Homo sapiens: one gene and its partners. The protein of the gene in region 1 interacts with the protein of each later gene in a pairwise test. Each region holds a gene or a part of one and is shown on either strand. Other genes may lie near its edges.

Region 1 (9,140 bases):
ACAGAGTGAGACTCCATCTCAAAAATAAATAAATAAATAAATAAATAAATAAATAAATAAACAAACAAATAAAGAAATTCACTGGAAAAGGATTTTAAAGGCTGATATTGGAAGAGTTTCATGGACACCTGATGCCTTTGTCTGCCTGGCATAGCTCAGACTTCCTAACAAAATGCCATGGCCAGGTGGCTTAAACACCAGAAATTTATTTTCTCAGAGTTCTAGAGTCTGGGGAGTACAAGATCAAGGTGCTGATCGATTTGGTTCCTGTTGAGGGCTCTCTTCCTAGCTTGCAGAAAGCTACCTTCTCGTTGTATTCTCACATGGTGGAGAGAATGCCAGCAGGTTCTCTGGTGTCTTTTTTATAAGGACACCAATCCCCCCCTGAGGGCCCCACCCTCATGATCTCACCTAAGTCTAACTATTGCCCACAGGCCCCATCTCCAAATGTCATCACATTGGGCGTTAAGTCTTCAACTTTTAAATGATGGGGGGACACAAACATTCAGTGCATAACACTGCCTAATATTCACTCCGCTTTCTGATACTCGCACCCTGGTTTTCCTTTTGGGAACCACCCCTTCCTCACTCAGCTCCTGTGGTTCTACTGGGCTGAACCTATCCCACCCCCAGCTTCATGGGTAGGTAGAACTTGACCTGGCCACCAAAAATGTTCCACTCCTCTGGCCATAGTAATTCGTTGAAAGATGGAACCATGACCCATATTTGGACTAATGAGAGATAGTGCCTATTATGGACTGAATTGTGTGTCCTCCCTGCCCCAAATACATAGGTGGCAGCCTTACCCCCAAGTGTGACTGTATTTGGAGATGGACTCTTTGGGGAGATAATATGGTTAAATGAGGTCATAAGAGTGGGGCCAGAATCCAATAGGACTGGTGTCCCTTTAGGAAGAGACACCAGAGATCTCTCTCTCTCTTTCCATGTACACAGAGAAAAGGCCATGTGTGGACACAGCAAGAAGGTGGCCATCTAAAGTCATGAAGAGAGGCCTCACCAGAAACCAGCCCTGATGGCAACTGGATTTTGAACTTCTAGTCTCCAGAATTGTGAGAAGTGAATTCTTGTTGAGAAGCCACCCAGTATGTGATATTTTGTTATGGCAGCCTAAGACAGTACCAGAGCCACTGGAAAAGACAGGCTGAAATAACGAAGGCAGGATTATTGTGTAAGCCTGAGCTGTCAGAGCTCATGAGAGGGCCTGCCTGAAAAGCCAACACAGAGCAGAGTGAAGCCAGGAGATGGAGGTCCTGACTGTGCCTGAGGAGCACCTGGATCCAGCCATGCCTGAAGTGGGTGTATACCTCTGCATATCACAGTTACTCAAGCCAATGAATTATTTTGTTTTGCTTTTTATTAGTTTGTTTGTTTGTTTTTGAGACAAGGTCTCACTCTGTTGCCCAGGCTGGAGTGTAGTGGCACGATTATGGCTCACTGTAACATTGAACTCTTGGGCTCAAGTGATCTTCCCCCCGCTCAGCTTCTTAAGTTGCTTGGACTACACATCTGGCCAATTTTTTCATTTTTTGTAGAGATGGGGGTCTCACTATGCTGCCCAGGCTGGTCACAAAATCCTGGCCTCAAATGATCCTCCTGCCTCGGCCTTCCAAAATATTGGGATTATAGGCATGAGCCACCGTGCCAAGCCTATTTTGTTTTTTGTTTTGTTTTGTTTTTAAAGACAGGGTCTTGCTATGTTGCCCAGGCTGGCCTGGAACTTCAGGGCTCAAGAAATCTTCCTACCCCAGTCTCCTGAGTAGCTGGGACTACAGGCATGCACCACTGCTCCCAGCTTGAATGAACTCTTCTTTTTGCTTGATTTTAGTTTGTCTCATCAAAAGCACTGTGACTAATACAGAGTCAACTCTAATTTTATTACTTTTTTCATTATATCTGATCAGATATAACATCATAAACACACTGGTGAAGAAGAGTTATAGTCAGAGTACCACTCGAATTGAAGCTTTAAACTGTCAATAAGCCACCTGCAATCCCTCGGTGTAGAGAAAAGGAGAACTTGGACATCTTGATTTCTCACCAGGTATTCAGAGGTCACCTACCTGGTTGGTTCCCTCTTAGAGTGTGACATCTTTAAAGTGGGCTATGAAGCCCTTTGCCTAAGACCTTGCTTTCCCAAGGGGCAGCTATTCACATCTAGCAGACAACACACTAGTGTAGACATCTCAGTGCACTTGGCAAGCCTCTGAAGCCTCTTCTTGTAAGTCAGGCCAGCAATGGCCCTTGCACTGGCAAGCATCTTGCTCAAGCTCTTAAGTGATCATAATAAAGTGATTAACACAGAGTGCCCAGCACAGTGATTACTTCTGATTAGAGGTGGGTGGTGCATTAGTCAACACCAGGCAGAAAAGCCCAGCAATGTTTCTGAGCAGACTCAGGAAGAGATAGTTGTTCTCAAACTTGAGTATGCATCAGAATCACAGAATGATGGTGAAGGGGGGTGGGGAGTGAGGGTGGGGTTGGGAAGACTTGTTAAGACACACACTGCTGAGCCCTACCCCTAGAGTTTCTGATTCAGCAGGTCAGAGTGGGCCCCTAGAATCTGCATTTCTCACAAGTTCGCAGGTACTGCTGGTTGGGGGGCTATACACTGAAAATCACTGTTAGAAGACTGCTGAATTGGACAAAGGCCCCTCAAAGGAGAAATGATCCAGCACTTGGTTTTTCTGCTTCCCTGAAACCCTCATCTCAACAAAGATGCCCTGTTATCTCCACTGTGGGTCCTGAAGCCTTAGACAAGTACAGAAGTGAAATGTACATCTACATAAAAAAATGATACACAGTACTAACTTCATGCCTGTGGGTATAGAGCCAGAAATGTCACAGCACACCTGCATATCTATCACATTGTCACAGCAGCCCCTAGATGCAATTATTCCTGAATTACAGAGAAACAAATGGAGGTACCAGGCAGCTGTGACTGTTGTCTACAGAGAAGACACACGTGGAAGGCAATTTTTCTTGGTCATGAAAATTGTCAAATGTACATAAAGGTGAAATAAATAGTGTAATAAATCCCCAAATGTTTCAACTGCAGTGGACTCTGGCAATGACAGTGGTTCTCAAATTTGAGTGTGCATCAGAATCACCTAAGAGACTTGCCAAAACAGATATTGCATGGGTATCATCCACCAACAAGAATTATTAGGACTTTGCCACATCGAAAACTCTTCTGATGACAAGACAGCACTGGCAGGGAATAAACTCACAAAGATAGTTTTATGTTTCACTTTGCTTTGTTTTGTTCTTGAGGCAGGGTCTTGCTCTGTCACCCAGCCTGGAGTACAGTGTTGTAATCATGACTCACTGCAGCTTCAACCTCCCGGGCTCAAGCAATCCTCCCACCTCAGCCTCCTGAGTAGCTGGGACTACAGGCATGTGCCACCATGCCCAGTTAATTTTTGTATTTTTTTGTAGAGATGGGGTTTCTCCATGTTGCCCTTGCTGGTGTCAAACTTGGGCTTGTGAGCTTGATTTTGGGATTACAGACATGAGCCACCGTGCCCAGCCAGATTTTTTGATGTTATCTCCAAATGAATAAATGTAAGTATGGCCACAGGGACACTGCTCAAAAGGAACATGATAACATACCTCGTTTTGGTAGTCCCGTTTGGGCCTGTCTTCATTTTTATGTTTTTTTCCTTTTCTTTTTCTTTTTCTTTTTTTAAGAGACAGTGTCTCACTCTGTCACCCAGACAAGAGTGCGGTGGCAAGATCATAGCTCACTGCAATCTCGGACTCCTGGCCTCCAGGGATCTTCATGCCTTGACTTCCCAAAGTGCTGGGATTATAGGTGTGAGCCACCACGCCTGGCCTCTTCATTTTTAAAACAACCCAAAAGGGATACAGAATAGAATGTCACTTGGATAGCTGTTTGACAGCTTTTTCTTTTTCTTGTCTTTTTTTTTTTTTTTAATTGAGACAAGGTCTTGCTCTGTGGCCCAGGCTGGAGTGCAATGCCACTGTCATGGCTCACTGCAGCCTCAACCTCCTGGGCTCCAAGGCTCCTCCAGACTCAGCCTCCTGAACAGGCATGTGCCACTGCACCCAGCTAATTTATTTATTTATTTATTTTTATTTTTATTTTTATTTTGAGACAGAGTCTCGCTCTGTCGCCCAGGCTCGAATGCAGTGGCGCAAGCTCTGCTCACTGCAAGCTCCGCCTCCCGGGTTCACGCCATTCTCAGCATCCCGAGTAGCTGTGACTGCAGGCGCCCGCCACCACGCCCAGCTAATTTTTTGTATTTTTAGTAGAGACGGGGTTTCACCGTGTTAGCCAGAATGGTCTCGATCTCCTGACCTCGTGATCCGCCCGCCTCGGCCTCCCAAAGTGCTGGAATTACAGGCGTGAGCCACCGCGCCCGGCCCAGCTAATTTATTTTTATTTTTTGTTTTTTGTAGAAATGAGGTCTGGCCATGTTCCCCAGGCTGACAGCTTCTAACAGAAGCAAACATATGCTCCCCTTGTAACCAGTGCGTTCACTTGCAGATATTTGTCCCAGAGAAATGAGAGTTTGTATCCACCAAAAAAACGTGTACCATAATAGTGACTATAGCCAGAAAAGAGATGAGGGAGGGGGGAAAGGCCGGAAGGAGGGAAGGAGGCAGGCAAGCAGGTAGGAAGGAAGCAAGCTTGGTGTCCATCAACTGGGTAAACGTTTAAAAAATACGGTATCTTTGCACAGTGGAGTACTACTCAGCAATAAAAAGGAAGGAACTGATATGAACTACTTATATTCCCAACAGGATGGATCTTCTAATTTGTTATGTTGAAGGAGAATATTCTGTATTACTTCAAGTTTATGAAGTCCAAGAACAGGCAAAATGAACCTACAGTGACAGAAAGCAGAATACACTGTAGTGGTTGCCTGAGGCTGGATAAGGATGGGGCCAGGGAAGGAAGGTAGGTCAGGAAGGCCCACCACGGAACTTTCTGGGGTGATGGGCACGTTCTATTTGTTGATCTGGGCGACGGTTACACAGGTGTACACATATATAAAAATTAGTGGAGCTGAACACGTAAGGTCTGGGCATCACACTTTATGTAAGTTAAACTTCAGTAAAGTGCTCTCAGCACACATCCGCAGCCGCACCCACACAAAATCCCAGGAGGCTCAGTACCAGCTGTGGTCCGGGCCTTGCCCACCTCGGAGAGGCCACGACCCAAGGCATCCGGTTTCCTCTCGCTCCAGTCTAACTTCCGCGCATCTACGAGGGCCGGGACTGCCGCTACCTTTCTGGAAGGCGCCGGCCGGCCAGTCACCGGAGGGATCCCGCCAGAGGCGGCTCCGCGTCTCCAGCAGCGGGGCAGGGACCCGGGCGCCCCGCCCTCGCCAGCGCCCGCCCCCGCCCGCCCCCGGCCCGCCCTCTGTATCTGGCCCCTGGGCAGCTGCCCGGGGAGGCGGCCAGCGAGCTGGGGCCGCGCAATGTCGCACGGAGCCGGGCTCGTCCGCACCACGTGCAGCAGCGGCAGCGCGCTCGGACCCGGGGCCGGCGCGGCCCAGCCCAGCGCGAGCCCCTTGGAGGGGCTGCTGGACCTCAGCTACCCCCGCACCCACGCGGCCCTGCTGAAAGTGGCGCAAATGGTAAGTGAGCGCGGGGCGCGAGGCCGAGGTTCTACAGGGCGTCCCGGGAAAGCAGGGGTCCGGGAGCGGACGCGCCGGGCGTCTGGACCCGGCCGGAGCCCAGGGAGCATCGCGCAGCGGGCGGGGCACCGCGTCGCTAAAGTTCGCGGCAGGCTTCCTCCGGGAAAGTTGCTGCCGCAGCCCCCGCGCTGGAGCTCAGTCCCCAGAGCCGCCCCGGCCCTTGCTCCCGCGGACCCAGGTCGCCAGGGTCGCAAGTTTCTCCGGCCACCCCCCTGCGAAGCCTGACCCGCCTACTGACTGAAACCACGGGCAAAGTTCCTTTTCGTCTTTCTTCCTCTTCTCTGGGCCGCGCCGCTTCGAACCCGAGCCGGGGGTGGAAGAGTCGCCCAGGCGGCGGCGCTGAGGGAGCGAAACCCGACCTCTTCCCCGTCCACGGCCTCCTCTTTCCTCCGAACCCAGCGCGGCAGGGCTTCCCTGCTCTGTGTGCAGTTTCGCTCGAAGGAGGAGGTCAGAGGGTCTTGTGTTCCATAGTGGGGAAAAAGAACTGGGACCGTTGAGACGGCCGTCCTGGTCCCCTGCGCCCTCAAGTTCCGAGGGAGGGCCCGGGTCTCAGGGGGCTCTGGAGGGCAGGGGGTCAGTTGGGAAAGGCCTGTTGTCAGGGGCTGGTACTCATGTAGGGGAGCCAGACTGTTGAATGGGAGTCACCCGTGGAGCCAGGCAGGATGAGTGTCTGGGCTTGGATTGTGACCAACTCAGCACAAGGGCCTCCTACCAGGGCAGACGTTGCCTGGCCGATTCTCTTGTTCCCCACTCTTTTCTTTTCTCCCCTCCCGTTTTTTTCTTCTTTAAAAGTTTGTAATCTGAAACAACTTTTCCGTTTGTATGATGTGTTTTGAAACTGGGTTGGGCTGTTTGTGAGTCTCCACCATTGTAATGTTTGCACCAAGAACGGTGGGGAGGGGAGCGGTAAGTTTCAAAAAGAGGTGTGGGGAAAGGAGTGTGGGGCTGGACAAGGTCACACACCCAGAAGCTGGGGCCTGCTAAGGTGGCCTGGCCCCAGGGGGTTGGGCACAGGACGTCTGTGCATCTATAGCACTGCCATTCCAGACACTGAGTGTGCATGAGGTGGCCCTCATGTCTTGCTTGGGCCAGACCTAAAGAGAAGGGGCGCTGAGTTCCTGCCTCCCTAAGAACGGTGTCTAGATAGACCAAAAACTAGGAAGAGCCATTTCAGCAACGTACAAAAAAATCTGGTGCTGAGCATTGTTGGGTTTGAGCAGGGCATTTTTTGGCCCAGGCTAAGAGATTTGATCAGCCAAATAGAAGAGACCAGCCCATCTCACCATCCTTAAAAGATGGGCTGGGGTGAGACATATCCTACCTGAGCATTGGAAGGGATGAGTTTGGTAGACAGAGAATGGGATCAGAAGCCTCCATCTTGGCCCCTGAGTTTGCTGGACAAAGATATTGTGGGATGAAAAGTCTTCTTGTTGGTCTATGAGTTTGGTACACAAACATAATGGAGATGAAACCTCGGCAACATAGCGAGACCCCATCTCTACAAAAAAAATTTTAAAACCTTGTGTGGTTGGCATGGGCCTCTAGTCCCAGTTACTTGGGAGGCTGAGGTGAGAGGATTGATTGAACTGAGAAGGTCAGTGAACTGTGCCACTGCACTAGTCTGCGTGACGGAGGGAGGCCTGTCTCAAAAAAAAAAAAAAAAAAAGGTACAAAGAAAAGGTAATGGAGATGAGAAGCCTTCATGTGGTCCATGATTTTGATGAATAAAGATACTGGGAGATGAGAAATCTCCATCTCATCTTAAGCTCCTCAGCTAGCCTCTGGCCTGTGGTCCTTGGGCCAATTTGCAAGTGGCAAGAGTGGGGCCTGTTGTTCCAAAAAAGAGAACAAAGACTTGAATAATTTCTTTATCTGGTTGCTTATTCTCTATGTGCTCCTCTTAAAACCATGCTGAGGAGTCTTACACCTGCCCTGGAGGATTCCCCATCACTGCTGCAGGCTTGTTTGATCAGACCCTCTGGGAGCAAAGTTGCCCTTGCAGGATGGCTGTATTAGTCCTAGTTAGGGCTATCTACTTGGGCCTCTTATCTAACTCCTCCCTATTTTCCCACTTCTCCTCTTTTCTAAGACTCTGCTTGGGCATTTGAGGTTCATTTGTCTTCTTTGCTGGAAAATGCTTGTTTAGCCAAGTTTTAACATTGGGGAAGGGCAGAAGCAGCTAAATTAATGCCACCCATTGGGGCTTTCTTTCTATGGGTCTCTCATTTTGACCATCAGTTTCTCAGTTTCATACTGAACAGGTTGACCCTTTTGTCCTCAGCTTCTCATGAAATGTTTTCATCATGATCTGATCAATAGATCTGCCAACACGTTGTCTTAAGAAATCATTGCAAAGGCTGTTCCACTGGAGAATGACTTCCCTTGTCTTGGCCTCTTCTGGGTCCACCATTACTAGAAAATGAGTTTCTGAGTGAATGTGTGTACTTGACATGTCATTTATACATGTGTAATTTTTATAATCCTCTGGCCATGATAATTCAGTTTCTTTGGTCTTCCTTTTTGGAGTAGAGACACAGTCACAGGTTTTGACTTTTGACTTTAAAGCACTCTTTTTTTTCTTTCTTTCTTGAGAGGGAGTCTTGCTCTGTCACCAGGCTGGAGTGCAGTGGAACGATCTCAGCTCACTGCAACCTCTGCCTCCCGAGTTCAATCAAATCTCCTGTCTCAGCCTCACGAGTAGCTGGGACTACAGGCACGTGCCACCACACCCAGCTAATTTTTGTATTTTTAGTAGAGATGGGGTTTCACCATGTTGGCCAGGATGGTCTTGATCTCTTGACCTCATGATCCGCCCCCGCCTCTGCCTCCCAAAGCGCTGGTATTACAGGTGTGAGCTGCCGCGCTCGGCTAAATGACTTTTTTTTTTTTGAGCGAGACAGAGAGGGTCTTGCTCTGTCACCCAGGCTGGAGGACAGTGGTGTTATCATGGCTTACTGCAGCCTTAACCTCCTGGGCTCGGCGATTGTCCCACCTCAGCCTCCCGAGTAGCTGGGACTATAGGCACCCACCACGATGCCCAGCTAAATTTTGTATTTTTTGATACAGACGGGGTTTTGCTATGTTGCCCAGACTGGTCTTGAACTTAGAGATTCAAGGGATCTGTCCACCTCGGCCTCCCCAAGTGCTGGGATTACAGGTGAGCCACTGCGCCTGCATGAGACTCTTTTTTTTAATAGCTATTTTTTTTTAGCCCTATTATTGTTCTAGTAATTACATACTATATACCATGTGTGTATAATCTCATTAAATGTTTCTAAGAATCCAGTGAAGTAACATGTTTGATAGATAAGGAAACGGGCTAAAGAGTTAAAGAGACACTAAAGTCACACAGCTCTTAGCAGTAGTGGTGGAACCGATCCAGGCCTAATGGCCTGATCTCCAAAACTCATAACTCTGGCAGAGTTGTTGCTTGTTAATAGTTCTAGGGATATAAAA
Region 2 (3,770 bases), on another chromosome or scaffold:
TTTGCAGTAAGCAATATGTCCTCCTGTCCATCCTGCTTTGTCTCCTGGCATCTGGTTTGGTGGTTTTCTTCCTGTTTCCGCATTCAGTCCTTGTGGATGATGACGGCATCAAAGTGGTGAAAGTCACATTTAATAAGCAAGACTCCCTTGTAATTCTCACCATCATGGTAAGCCTTAGGGTTTCATTCCCTGGGTTGTGCACCTGCCAGGCTGGGACCCAGGACACTTACACTTGTTTCCTGACTTGCCCTGATGTAGGCCACCCTGAAAATCAGGAACTCCAACTTCTACACGGTGGCAGTGACCAGCCTGTCCAGCCAGATTCAGTACATGAACACAGTGGTCAGTACATATGTGACTACTAACGTCTCCCTTATTCCACCTCGGAGTGAGCAACTGGTATGCTGTTCTTTTAGGAATCTTGCCCCACAGGCCTAAGAGAAGAGTAGGGGGCTGTAGGAATGCCATAGCTGTGTCACTTTCCTTTTTGTCTCCTCATTTCTACTTGTAGGAACTGGTGATGAGGAAGACCTGTTGGGCCCTGTAATTATAAATAATTGTGAGAAAAAACAGCTATCATTTAAGCATTTGGGGAGCAGAATAATTTGTAAGAGACAAAGATTTGCTACAAAATAAGAAGCAGCAGTGTTACAGCCTGAGGTCCATTGGCCTCTCAAAAGGGAAGAGGTTGGCAGTATCAATTAGAGGCTCATAGACTATATTAGGGACAATCTCAGGGAAGTATTTTGCATGTGATGGAAGAATGACCCAAGGTCTTTGGATTGCTAATAATAATACTGTTCTGTGTCAAGCCTGCTTGGCCACAGACCAACTCTGGTATCTTATTTTCAGGTGAATTTTACCGGGAAGGCCGAGATGGGAGGACCGTTTTCCTATGTGTAGTAAGGACACTGTTCTCTCTGTGTGTGCTCTCTACTGGAGGAAAGGGATTCAAAGTCATACTCCATTGATTGGGGCCTGGTCCTGCCTTAGATCTCAGCTTTTGACTTATAGGTTCCCTGGCTTTGGATGTCTTGAGATTTATTTGAAGAATGTATTATTATTATGTGTGTATTTGAAGAATGTATTATTTGATATGTGACAGAAGTGCTGGAATTTCTAAAAGAGAACATTAAGCCACTAAAAACGTTACCAAGCTCCAGCACTTATGTGATGGGTTTGAAAAAACAGAAAGTGGTATGACGCTGTGGGAGGATGAAAATGACAGTGGCAGGGACTGAGAGCTGACAAGCCTTGGCAGCACTTAGGTCGGAAGGGGGAGGGGGGCACCCCAAACAGGACAGTGTAACTCTGCACTCTTCTACTGAGGCTTTAAAAAAAAAAAAACTGACTATTTCCATATTTGCTGTTTGGTAGCTTCTTCTGCACGGTACCTGAGATCCTGGTGCACAACATAGTGATCTTCATGCGGTGCGTCTCTCTTCCCTATCCCGATGGCCTGTCCGGCCATGTGAGCCTACCACCTTTGCTCAGGAGGCCCCTGTGTGACCACAGGGCAGAGGCACCTAGCCCGAGGGGACACCCTGTGCCTCACAGGCACAGATACAGTAGACCCTTGGTGTTCTCTAAACACAGTGTCCACATGCCCTTCACAAATCACCAGTCACCCTGAGCAGTCAAACATTTTCTCCATAAAATGGGTCTAGTTTAACTAAACACTTGATCCCCTCAGAATCCTAATGAGACAGTCATGAACAGAAAAGCTTTCTCAAGATGTTAAGTACTGGGCATTTGACCAGACTTCCTCTCTAGCCACACAAATTACCACATGTCATGGACCTTTAGGGTTGTTTTCTGGAAGCATGGCTGTTAAATTTGCAAGTGACAAGACTCTGCTGCAGACATGAAATATGAGGGGTTAGAGCAGAGTTTCTCAGCCTTGGCACTACGAACATTTTGGGCCAGACCTTTGTTGTAGGGGGCTGTTCTGTGCATTATAGGATGTTTAACAGTATTCCTGGCATCTGCCCACTAGATCCCAGTAGTAAACCCTCCATCCCTTAGTTGTGACAACCCAGAATGTCTTCAGGCATTGCCAGAAGTCTCCTGTGGGGTAAAATCATTCTCGATTGAGAAGCCTTGTTTGGAAGGCCACCTCCTGGCACAGTATCTCTGTGAAAGTGGAAAGATCTTCTGGCCTCCTGGTTACATAACCATGAGGATATGTGCCTGGGGCCCGTGGGTATTGTTCTCTGAACTTGCAAAAAATTTCCTGGGACATTTTTCTGGCTTATTTCATCCCCCAAACATAATTAATTCTTCTTGGTTTTCTTTTCCCTAGAACTTCAGTGAAGATTTCATACATTGGCCTCATGACCCAGAGCTCCTTGGAGACACATCACTATGTGGATTGTGGAGGAAATTCCACAGCTATTTAACAACTGCTATTGGTTCTTCCACACAGCGCCTGTAGAAGAGAGCACAGCATATGTTCCCAAGGCCTGAGTTCTGGACCTACCCCCACGTGGTGTAAGCAGAGGAGGAATTGGTTCACTTAACTCCCAGCAAACATCCTCCTGCCACTTAGGAGGAAACACCTCCCTATGGTACCATTTATGTTTCTCAGAACCAGCAGAATCAGTGCCTAGCCTGTGCCCAGCAAATAGTTGGCACTCAATAAAGATTTGCAGAATTTAATACAGATCTTTTCAGCTGTTCTTAGGGCATTATAAATGGAAATCATAACGTGGTTCTAGGTTATCAAACCATGGAGTGATGTGGAGCTAGGATTGTGAGTGACCTGCAGGCCATTATCAGTGCCTCATCTGTGCAGAAGTGGCAGCAGAGAGGGACCATCCAAATACCTAAGAGAAAACAGACCTAGTCAGGATATGAATTTGTTTCAGCTGTTCCCAAAGGCCTGGGAGCTTTTTGAAAAGAAAGAAAAAAGTGTGTTGGCTTTTTTTTTTTTTAGAAAGTTAGAATTGTTTTTACCAAGAGTCTATGTGGGGCTTGATTCACCCTTCATCCATTGGCTGGAACATGGATTGGGGATTTGATAGAAAAATAAACCCTGCTTTTGATTCATCTGTGTCTCCTCTGATTGCCTGGGTGTTTTGTAGGGATCTCTGGGGGAACCGTAGAATAGTTCCCTTCCAAGTGGGTCAGGATGGAATAGGAGGAAAGAGACTGCACCCTGATTGTACTCCCGTTCCCATGAGTTCCTGTCACAGCAAGCAGCCTCATTTTCTTCCATCTGCCTCTTGCGGCAGGGGGCTACCCTGTTCCCTTCCAGGACAGAGCACTCAGTGCCCCATGGAGGTTGGAATTCAGTCTTGAATAAGACATCCTGGTTTGAGGTTGTAAGTTTCTTGGGTCATCTCCACCTGCTCTGCCACCAGAGGTTAGGCTACAGCCCCAGGATGGCAGAGAATCTAGTTAAGAAGCTTGAGTAGTCAGGTGTTAGAAGTCAGCTCTTCCCATAGCACTGGGACCTCAGGAAACCCTAACAACAACAGGTGGTGGCTGGGGTTGTATATTAGTTTTTGTCTCCATTCCCATAGCTTGGTTTTCAATATTTGCTTAATGATCTGTATAGTCTTGAATCTTCAAACTAAAGCTAAATTTCATGACTGTTGGGCTGACTTCGACCATAACGGAGGAACCCAGAAGCTGAGGCTTAAGTTTTGGTGTTGTCCTGGATCATGTAGTGACACAGGTACATGACAGTGATGACTGATGTGGATTGATGATAGGACATCACCACTTACACGGAAGCAAATGTGCACCGTTTCTGAGCATGCTGCCCT
Region 3 (7,987 bases), on another chromosome or scaffold:
AGCTGCTTTCAGCCTTGCTGTAGGACATGGAGGACCCCTGAGCTATTTGGGGTCACAAGGAAGCTGTTAGTATGTGGTTCTCATATTCTTAACTGTACAAGAAAGCAAAAGCCCCTTGAGGTCCCTCAGTATCCCTTCCCACCACCTGCACCCCACAGGTGGAGAAATTGCCTGCTTTTAGGGAGATAGCAGTGTAGGCCTCTTTGCTTGCGCCCTGCCTGGCCCCTGTTGGATCTCTTTTCTCTGCAGGAACTGCAGAGGCTTCTGAAGCTGGATCTTTCACTATGACATTTACAGTTGCTTGACCATTTTCTCCCGCTCTTGACAGGTCCCCCAGGATTAGCTGTGGCCACCAGAAGCAAGCGTCGATATGGAACGTGCATTCTGCTTAAAGCTCAGCAAGGCATGGTTGGAGGGAGGCCACTGATAGTCTCATTCTTTTGTCCTCAGAGCCCCCCAAGATGAACCCAGTGGTGGAGCCACTGTCCTGGATGCTGGGCACCTGGCTGTCGGACCCACCTGGAGCCGGGACCTACCCCACACTGCAGCCCTTCCAGTACCTGGAGGAGGTTCACATCTCCCACGTGGGCCAGCCCATGCTGAACTTCTCGTAAGTTGTCTCCCTCCACCCCACCCTGCTTGACTCATGGGCCGCCTAGGTCTCTGAAAATAATTCCAGACTGATCAAAGACAAAGGCCAAGCAGGAAGGTGTAAAAGGAACTTGTCCATCTATTTCAGAAAGGTGTCCTCTTGCCTGAATGTGCAACTGAGACACAGAGTGGTAAAAATGATACTTTCTGGTTCTGTTATATTTTTGGAGATATTAAGCTGACCACCAAATTACAGGCTTGTTAATCCAAACATAAAAACAAATGCATGTACTTAATTTATGTATCAAAATTAATCACCCTGGCCAGTGCGGTAGCTCATACCTGTAATCCCAGCACTTTAGAGGCTGAGTCAGGAGGATTGCTTGAGCTTAGGAATTGAAGACCAGCCTGGGCAACATAGTGAGACCTTGTCTCTACTGAAAAGTATTTAGCCAGGTGTGGTGACACATGCCTGTAGTCCCAGCTACTCGAGAAACTGAGGTGGGAGGATTGCTTGAACCCAGGGAGGGCCAAGGCTACAGTGAGCTGTGATCATAACACTGTACTCCAGCCTGGGTGACAGAGTGAGAACCTGTCTCAAAAAAAAAAAGAAAAAAATTAGTCACCCAATATTACTGAAAATAATAGTGCATGTTTGTATTTTACACGTACCCCTGAGCTATTTGGGGTCACAAGGAAGCTGTTAGTATGTGGTTCTCATATTCTTACCGTACAAGAAAGCAAAAGCCCCTTGAGGTCCCTCAGTATCCCTTCCCACCACCTGCTCCCCACAGGTGGAGAAATTGCCTGCTTTTAGGGAGATAGCAGTGTAGGCCTCTGAAGTAGAGGAGAGCCACCAGGGATGGGGAGTGGTTGAAGTATCTTTATTTTTTAATTATAGAAGTAATACACAGTTTTTTTAAAGTTTAAACAAAATATAAAAAGCAAACCCTCCCTTAGTCTCCATTACACAACTATATGTTAAGAATCTTATTAAACCAACTTGGTACTATTTGTATAATGCCTAGCAGTTTCAGAACGGGGCTGGGCACCTGGCTCTCAGACCCCCAGCTCTGAGACCCTCCATCCCCTTTTAGAAGATCTCATTGTTTTTAAAAATATCTCCTACCTTTTTATATTATTATTGATTGAATGCATGAGGTCAAAGTAATACATCTGCACATAAACCAAAAGGTGAGAATTCTGGGTAATACAAAATAACCCAGAACCCAAGCAGTCTTTTTTAAACTATAGATTATAACCCACGAAAAGGTCAGAAAGTCAATTTTGTGACTAGCATTCGAAGAAAAATGAACCAGAGTGGAAAATATATTTCAGTAAATGTGATGGTATGTGTGTTTGTGTGTGTGTCCTAGAATATGGTATAAATGTATTTCTTTGTCGGGGTTATGTTAGTGAGCATGTACCATTCTAGAAGGTGTAGCACCATCACTAGCCCAACAGAAATTTATCTTGGCCCAGCGCGGTGGCTCGTGCCTGTAATCCCAGCACTTTGGGAGGCCAAGGCGGGTGGATCACTTGAGTCCAGGAGTCCAAGACCAGCCTGGGCAACACAGTGAGACCCTAAAAAAATTTGTTTTAATAAATAAATAAGTTTATCTTGGCCAGGTGCGGTGGCTGACGCCTGTAATCCCAGCACTTTGGGAGGTCAAGGCAGGTGGATCACTAGAAGTCAAGAGTTCGAGACCAGCCTGGCCAATGTGGTGAAATTGTGTCTCTACTAAAAAAAAATACAAAAATACAAAAATTAGCCGGGTGTGTGGCTGGGCACAGTGGCTCACACCTGTAATCCCAGCACTTTGAGAGGCTGAGGTGGGCAGATCACCTGAGGTTGGGAGTTCAAGATCAGCCTGACCAACATGGAGAAACCTGGTCTCTACTAAAATTACAAAATTAGCCGGGCATGGTGGCGCATGCCTGTAATCCCAGCTACTCGGTAAGGCTGAGGCAGGAGAATCGCTTGAACTCAGGAGGCGGAGGTTGCAGTGAGCCAAGATAGCGCCATTGCACTCCAGCCTGGGCAACAAGAGAGAAACTCTGTCTCAAAAAATAAATAAATAAATAAATAAATAAATTAGCCGGGTGTGGTGGGCGCCTGTAATCCCAGCTACTCAGGAGGCTGAGACAGGAGAATCATTTCAACCCAGGAAGCGGAGGTTTCACTGAGCTGAGACCGCGACGAGCCTGGGTGACAGAGCAAAAAAATAAATAAATAAAGTTTATCTCTAAGAATCATAGAGATGGATTCCCTATAGAAACTCATAAGGTTGGTGAAATGATAAATGAGGCTTTTTTTTTTTTGGTTTGGTTTTTTTGTTTTTATTTTTGTAGAAACAGGGTCTGTGTTGCCCAGCCCTGTCTCAAATTCCTAGGCTCAAGAGATCTACCCGACTGGGCCCCTGAAGTGCTGGGATTACGGCCTTGAGTCACCATGCCAGCGAGTTAGTTTTTAAGCCGTGGTTTTGTGCCCTCAGTTCAAGATGCAGGTGCCTGTCTTTTACTGTTGAGAATTTGCACTAATGATGAAGGGTGATAAGAAACCATACCATAACTCAGCACCTGTTCTGTTTTTTACCGTAGGAATTGATTAGATTCTTACACAAGAGCATAGCTCAAAAGAGAAAGATTGTGTTAGGGTGAGGTTTACTGCAAGGGAGTGCTGAGGGCTGACACTGTGTGAGGCCTGGGCTAACGGGCCCAGGGCAAGGATATGCCCTGAGGTGATTAAGAACAGTGCTGTCTTCAGGAGCTGAGGGTCAGCAGGCAAGACAGACACAGCCAAAATGAGCAAGGTGGTGGAGGGGGCGGGCAGGTGTGCGGGTGTGGCTGGAACAGCCCGTCTTCAGGAGCTGAGGGTCAGCAGGTAAGACAGACACAGCCAAAATGAGCAAGGCGCTGGAGGGGGCGGGCAGGTGTGCGGGTGTGGCTGGAACAGCCCGTCTTCAGGAGCTGAGGGTCAGCAGGCAAGACAGACACAGCCAAAATGAGCAAGGTGGTGGAGGGGGCGGGCAGGTGTGTGGGCGTGGCTGGAACAGCCCGTCTTCAGGAGTGGAGGGTCAGCAGGTAAGACAGACACAGCCAAAATGAGCAAGGTGGTGGTAGGGGCAGACAGGTGTGCGGGTGTGGCTGGAGCAGCCACCTGGAGGGCACCCTGGACAGTTCTGGCATCCACGCAGCCCACGCCATCTTGGAGGCCAGTGCCTGGGCTTCTCAACTCCAACTTCCCGTCCAGGTTCAACTCCTTCCACCCGGACACGCGCAAGCCGATGCACAGAGAGTGTGGCTTCATTCGCCTCAAGCCCGACACCAACAAGGTGGCCTTTGTCAGCGCCCAGAACACAGGTGAGGCCCAGCTTGCGGGGCGGGAGGGCTGGCCATGGGAGGCTGCTGCCTGCATTCGAAGCAGGGGTGCAGGGATGCCCATGTGCAACCCTGCTGAGGCATGTGCTGGTGGGGACCGTGGGGATGGCCCTGAGTGTTGAGAGTGGTCCTGGGAGCCTGCGGGGCCGACTGTGTAGCTGTAGGGGCCTCCGGCACACAGGTTGTGTGCGTGCAGCCCCCTGACCATGAGGGCCCGTTTACCCAGTGCCACGTCTGCAGAAATGGCCATCAGCTGTGTGCATTCATTAGGAATTGCTGGAAAACAGGTTGGGCACAGTGGCTCACGCCTGTAATCCCAGCACTTTGGGAGGCCTAGGTGGGCAGATCACTTGAGGTCAGGAGTTCAAGACCAGCCTGGCCAACATACTGAAATCCCGTCTCTACTAAAAATACAAAAATTAGCTGGGTGTGGTGGTGCATGCCTGTAATCCCAAGCCACTTGGGAGGCTGAGGCAGGAGAATCACTTGAACCTGGGAGGCAGAGGTTGCGGTGAGCCAAGAATGCGCCACTGCACTCCAGCCTGGGCAACAGAGCGAGATTCTGTCTCAAAAAAAAAAGAAAAAAAAAAAAACCAGCCTGCGTGACTCTAGATCAGTGTTTCTTCCTGGACGTCCATTCCCACCTGCGACTTCTGCCACTGTATGTGCTAGGGGTGGTTCTGCCAGGCTGATTGGTGGGTGGAGGTGGGAGGGCTGGGGCCCAGTCTGGAGAGGGTGGCCTTCCATAGAGCACCTGCCTGTTCTGTGAGGAGAGTTGTGGCTTTCCCTCCGTATCCACAGGGTGAAGTGGGGAGGAGGAGAAATATCGTTGCTTCCACAGCTGCAGAGTTGGGGCCTCCTGTGGAGTCCCGGCTTGCAGGCAAGGAGAGTCAAGGCTGCCTCTCTGCAAGCCGAGCAGCTGCTGGGTGAGCTGACTGCCCTTCCCTTGCAGGCGTGGTGGAAGTGGAGGAGGGCGAGGTGAACGGGCAGGAGCTGTGCATCGCATCCCACTCCATCGCCAGGATCTCCTTCGCCAAGGAGCCCCACGTAGAGCAGGTGAGCCCAGCCCTGCTCCCAGCACGCTCCTGTCTTCTGTTTGCAGCGGTCTGTGGAGTCAGCCTCTTCCTCTTCCGTGAGGTAGTGCGTGTCTTGCCACTGTGTCTCACAGGCCTGTCTTCACTGTCTCCTTCTTTTCCCTTCTCGGACCATCCAGGGTGGATGTTCCCTAAATTCATTGCCCCCTCCTCGGCTGGTCAGTGGTGTGGTTTTTTTGAGGTTTGTTGTTTGTCACAAACATCCTTTTGCATTTGGGTTGTCCACGTTTACAGATATATCCATATCTATTGATAAATTTTTCCCAGTTAAATTGCTGGATCAAAGGACAGGTACATTTTAAATTTGATACACACTGTTAGATTGTATTTCTTCATGATTATCCTCCCACTATCTCTTGCATGAGGGCAGCTGGTTCCCTACTCCTTAACAACATGGTGTATTTTCAGAATTTCGGTCCTTTCAAATCTGAGAAATAAAAGATGAAATCTCACTCATGTTTTGAATCTAACTTAGAAGCAGGAGGGCTCATTCCCCATGCTCACTGGCTGTTTACGCTTCTTATTCTGTGCACTTGATATTTAAAGTCTTTGCCTGTTTTTCTGTGGATTGTTCTTTTTTGAGGCGGAGTTTCGCTCTGTTGCCCAGGCTGGAATGCAAAGGTGGGATCTCGGCTCATCGCAACCACCGCCTCTCAGGTTCAAGCGATTCTCCTGCCTCGGCCTCCTGGGTAGCTGGGATTACAGGCATGCGCCACCACGCCTGGCTAATTTTGTATTATTAGTAGAGACAGGGTTTCTCCATGTTGGTCAGGCTGGTCTTGAATTCCTGACTTCAGGTGATCCACCCGCCTCAGCCTCCCAAAGTGCTGGGATTACAGGTATGAACAACCGTGCCCGGCCAGATTGTCCTTTTTTTTTTTTAAAGATTTGTAGGAGCTTTCTGTATGCCATGGGTTAATCTGTTGTCTGCTTTATTTGTGACACATACTTCCCTAGTCTGTGGCCTGGTCCATGATGGGCTGTGCCCCACAGGTGCTCAGCTTTCCTGTTGTTGCCTCTGGGCTGTTTCCTTTACAATGTCTGGATTTGGGTTCTTGCTAAGGAAGTTGTTGTCCACTCCAAAATGATAAAAATATTCTCTCATTTTCTTTCTTTTTTTTTTTTTTTTTGAGACGGAGTCTCACTCTGTCACCCAGGCTGGAGTGCAGTGGAGCAATCTCGGCTCACTGCATGTTCTGCCTCCTGGGTTCACGCCATTCTCCTGCCTCAGCCTCCCGAGTAGCTGGGACTACAGGTGCCCGCCACCACACCCAGATCATTTTTTTGTGTTTTTAGTAGAGACGGGGTTTCGCTGTGTTAGCCAGGATGGTCTCGATCTCCTGACCTTGTGATCCACCTGCCTCGGCCTCCCAAAGTGCTAGGATTACAGGCGTGAGCCACCGCGCCCAGCCTGTTCTTTCATTTCTTGTATTCTTACAGCTTTCCTTTTTACATTACCACCTAGACCTTTAATCTCTCTCACATTTGTTTTTTGAGTGACGCAGCGTATAATTCTAACTCTTCCAGATGAGTGACCCAGTAGTCCCAACACCATTCATCGAATTCCATCCTGACTCCACAGATTTGGAATGTCATACATACATTAAAGCACATCCACATAAATATAGGGGTCTGTTTCTTTTTTTCTTTTTTCCTTTTTTTGAGAAGGAGTCTTGCTCTGTTGCCCAGGCTGGAGTGCAGTGGCACAATCTCAGCTCACTGTAGCCTCCACCTCTCGGGTTCAGGTGATTCTCCTGCCTCAGCCTCCCGAGTAGCTGGGATTACAGGCATGTGCCACCATGCCCAGCTAATTTTTGTATTTTTAGTAGCCATGTTGACCAGGCTGGTCACAAACTCCTGACCTCAAGTGATCCGCCTGCCTCAGCCTCCCAAGTGCTGGGATTACAGGCATGAGCCACTGTGCCCAGCCTCGTTTGTCTTTCTTCGTCTGCTTGTCCACTTCCTTACCAGTAACACATTTTTAGCTCTCACAGCTGTATATTACATGTTAATGTCTAAGGGAACGTTTCCCACATTTTTTCTCCAAATTTTCTTACTCATTCTTAAGCATTTCCTCTTCTAGATGAACTTTTGAATAAACATCTCAAGGCTTATAAAATGTACATCAAGACTGCATTGAATACATGAATGAATTTGGGTAGAATTGACATATTTTCATGGGTAGCAATATGCAGCGTGACAGTGTATTACGGTGACTTTAGGTCATGTTTTGTGTATTTTAGTATATAGAAAAGCTTTATTTCTTTATAGTTTTAATTATACAGGTCTTGTACATTTCATGTTAGGGTAAACTCAAGTGTTTTATCATTTTTGTTGCTTGTAAATAGATTTTTTCCCATTTAATCTTCAGATTGATTATTGATAATTGTGTGGACACTTCTGATTTCTCTGTGTTGAACTGGGCCACTGGTGTAACTTTCAGACAGCCAGGATCTTAGGCACAGCATGGATAGAACAACAGGCGTGAATGTTTGTTGCATGCTTGTCCCTGACTCTAGTGGAAATAGTTCTGTGTGTCACCACCTGTAAGATGCTCACTGTAGATTACTTACTGGTAGATAAGAAGGTAGCTTTTTTTTTTTTTTGAGACAGAGTCTCAATCTGTTGCCCAGGCTGGAATGCAGTGGCACGATCTCAGCTCACTGCAACCTCCGCCTCCTGAGTTCAAGCGATTCTCATGCCTCAGCCTCCCAAGTAGCTGGGGTTACAGGCATGCACCACCACACCCAGCTAATTTTTGTATTTTTAGTACAGATGGGGTTTCACCATGTTGGCCAGGCTGGTCTTGAATTCCTGATCTCAAGTGACCCACCCGGCTCAGCTTCCTAAAGTGTTGGGATTGGGCATGAGCCACTGCGCCCAGCCGGATAGCCTTTTTTTTAGTTGTAAAATTTTTCTAC

What was found.
Region 2: the proteins of CMTM7 (region 1) and TMEM106C interact in binary tests that used the Homo sapiens proteins (3 or more experiments, as listed by UniProt).
Region 3: the proteins of CMTM7 (region 1) and THAP4 interact in binary tests that used the Homo sapiens proteins (3 or more experiments, as listed by UniProt).

What each region holds. Positions count from the first base shown.
Region 1 is NC_000003.12:32,386,442-32,395,581, forward strand, and holds the start of CMTM7 (CKLF-like MARVEL transmembrane domain-containing protein 7), read left to right. Parts: upstream 1-5,411; 5' UTR 5,412-5,465; coding exon 5,466-5,624; intron 5,625-9,140.
Region 2 is NC_000012.12:47,965,831-47,969,600, forward strand, and holds the end of TMEM106C (transmembrane protein 106C), read left to right. Parts: intron 1-7; coding exon 8-167; intron 168-258; coding exon 259-399; intron 400-852; coding exon 853-902; intron 903-1,377; coding exon 1,378-1,431; intron 1,432-2,302; coding exon 2,303-2,399; 3' UTR 2,400-3,048; downstream 3,049-3,770.
Region 3 is NC_000002.12:241,598,937-241,606,923, reverse strand, and holds part of THAP4 (peroxynitrite isomerase THAP4), read left to right. Parts: intron 1-450; coding exon 451-610; intron 611-3,844; coding exon 3,845-3,954; intron 3,955-4,924; coding exon 4,925-5,028; coding exon of another isoform or gene 5,029-5,109; intron 5,110-7,987. UniProt on the Homo sapiens protein: Heme-binding protein able to scavenge peroxynitrite and to protect free L-tyrosine against peroxynitrite-mediated nitration, by acting as a peroxynitrite isomerase that converts peroxynitrite to nitrate.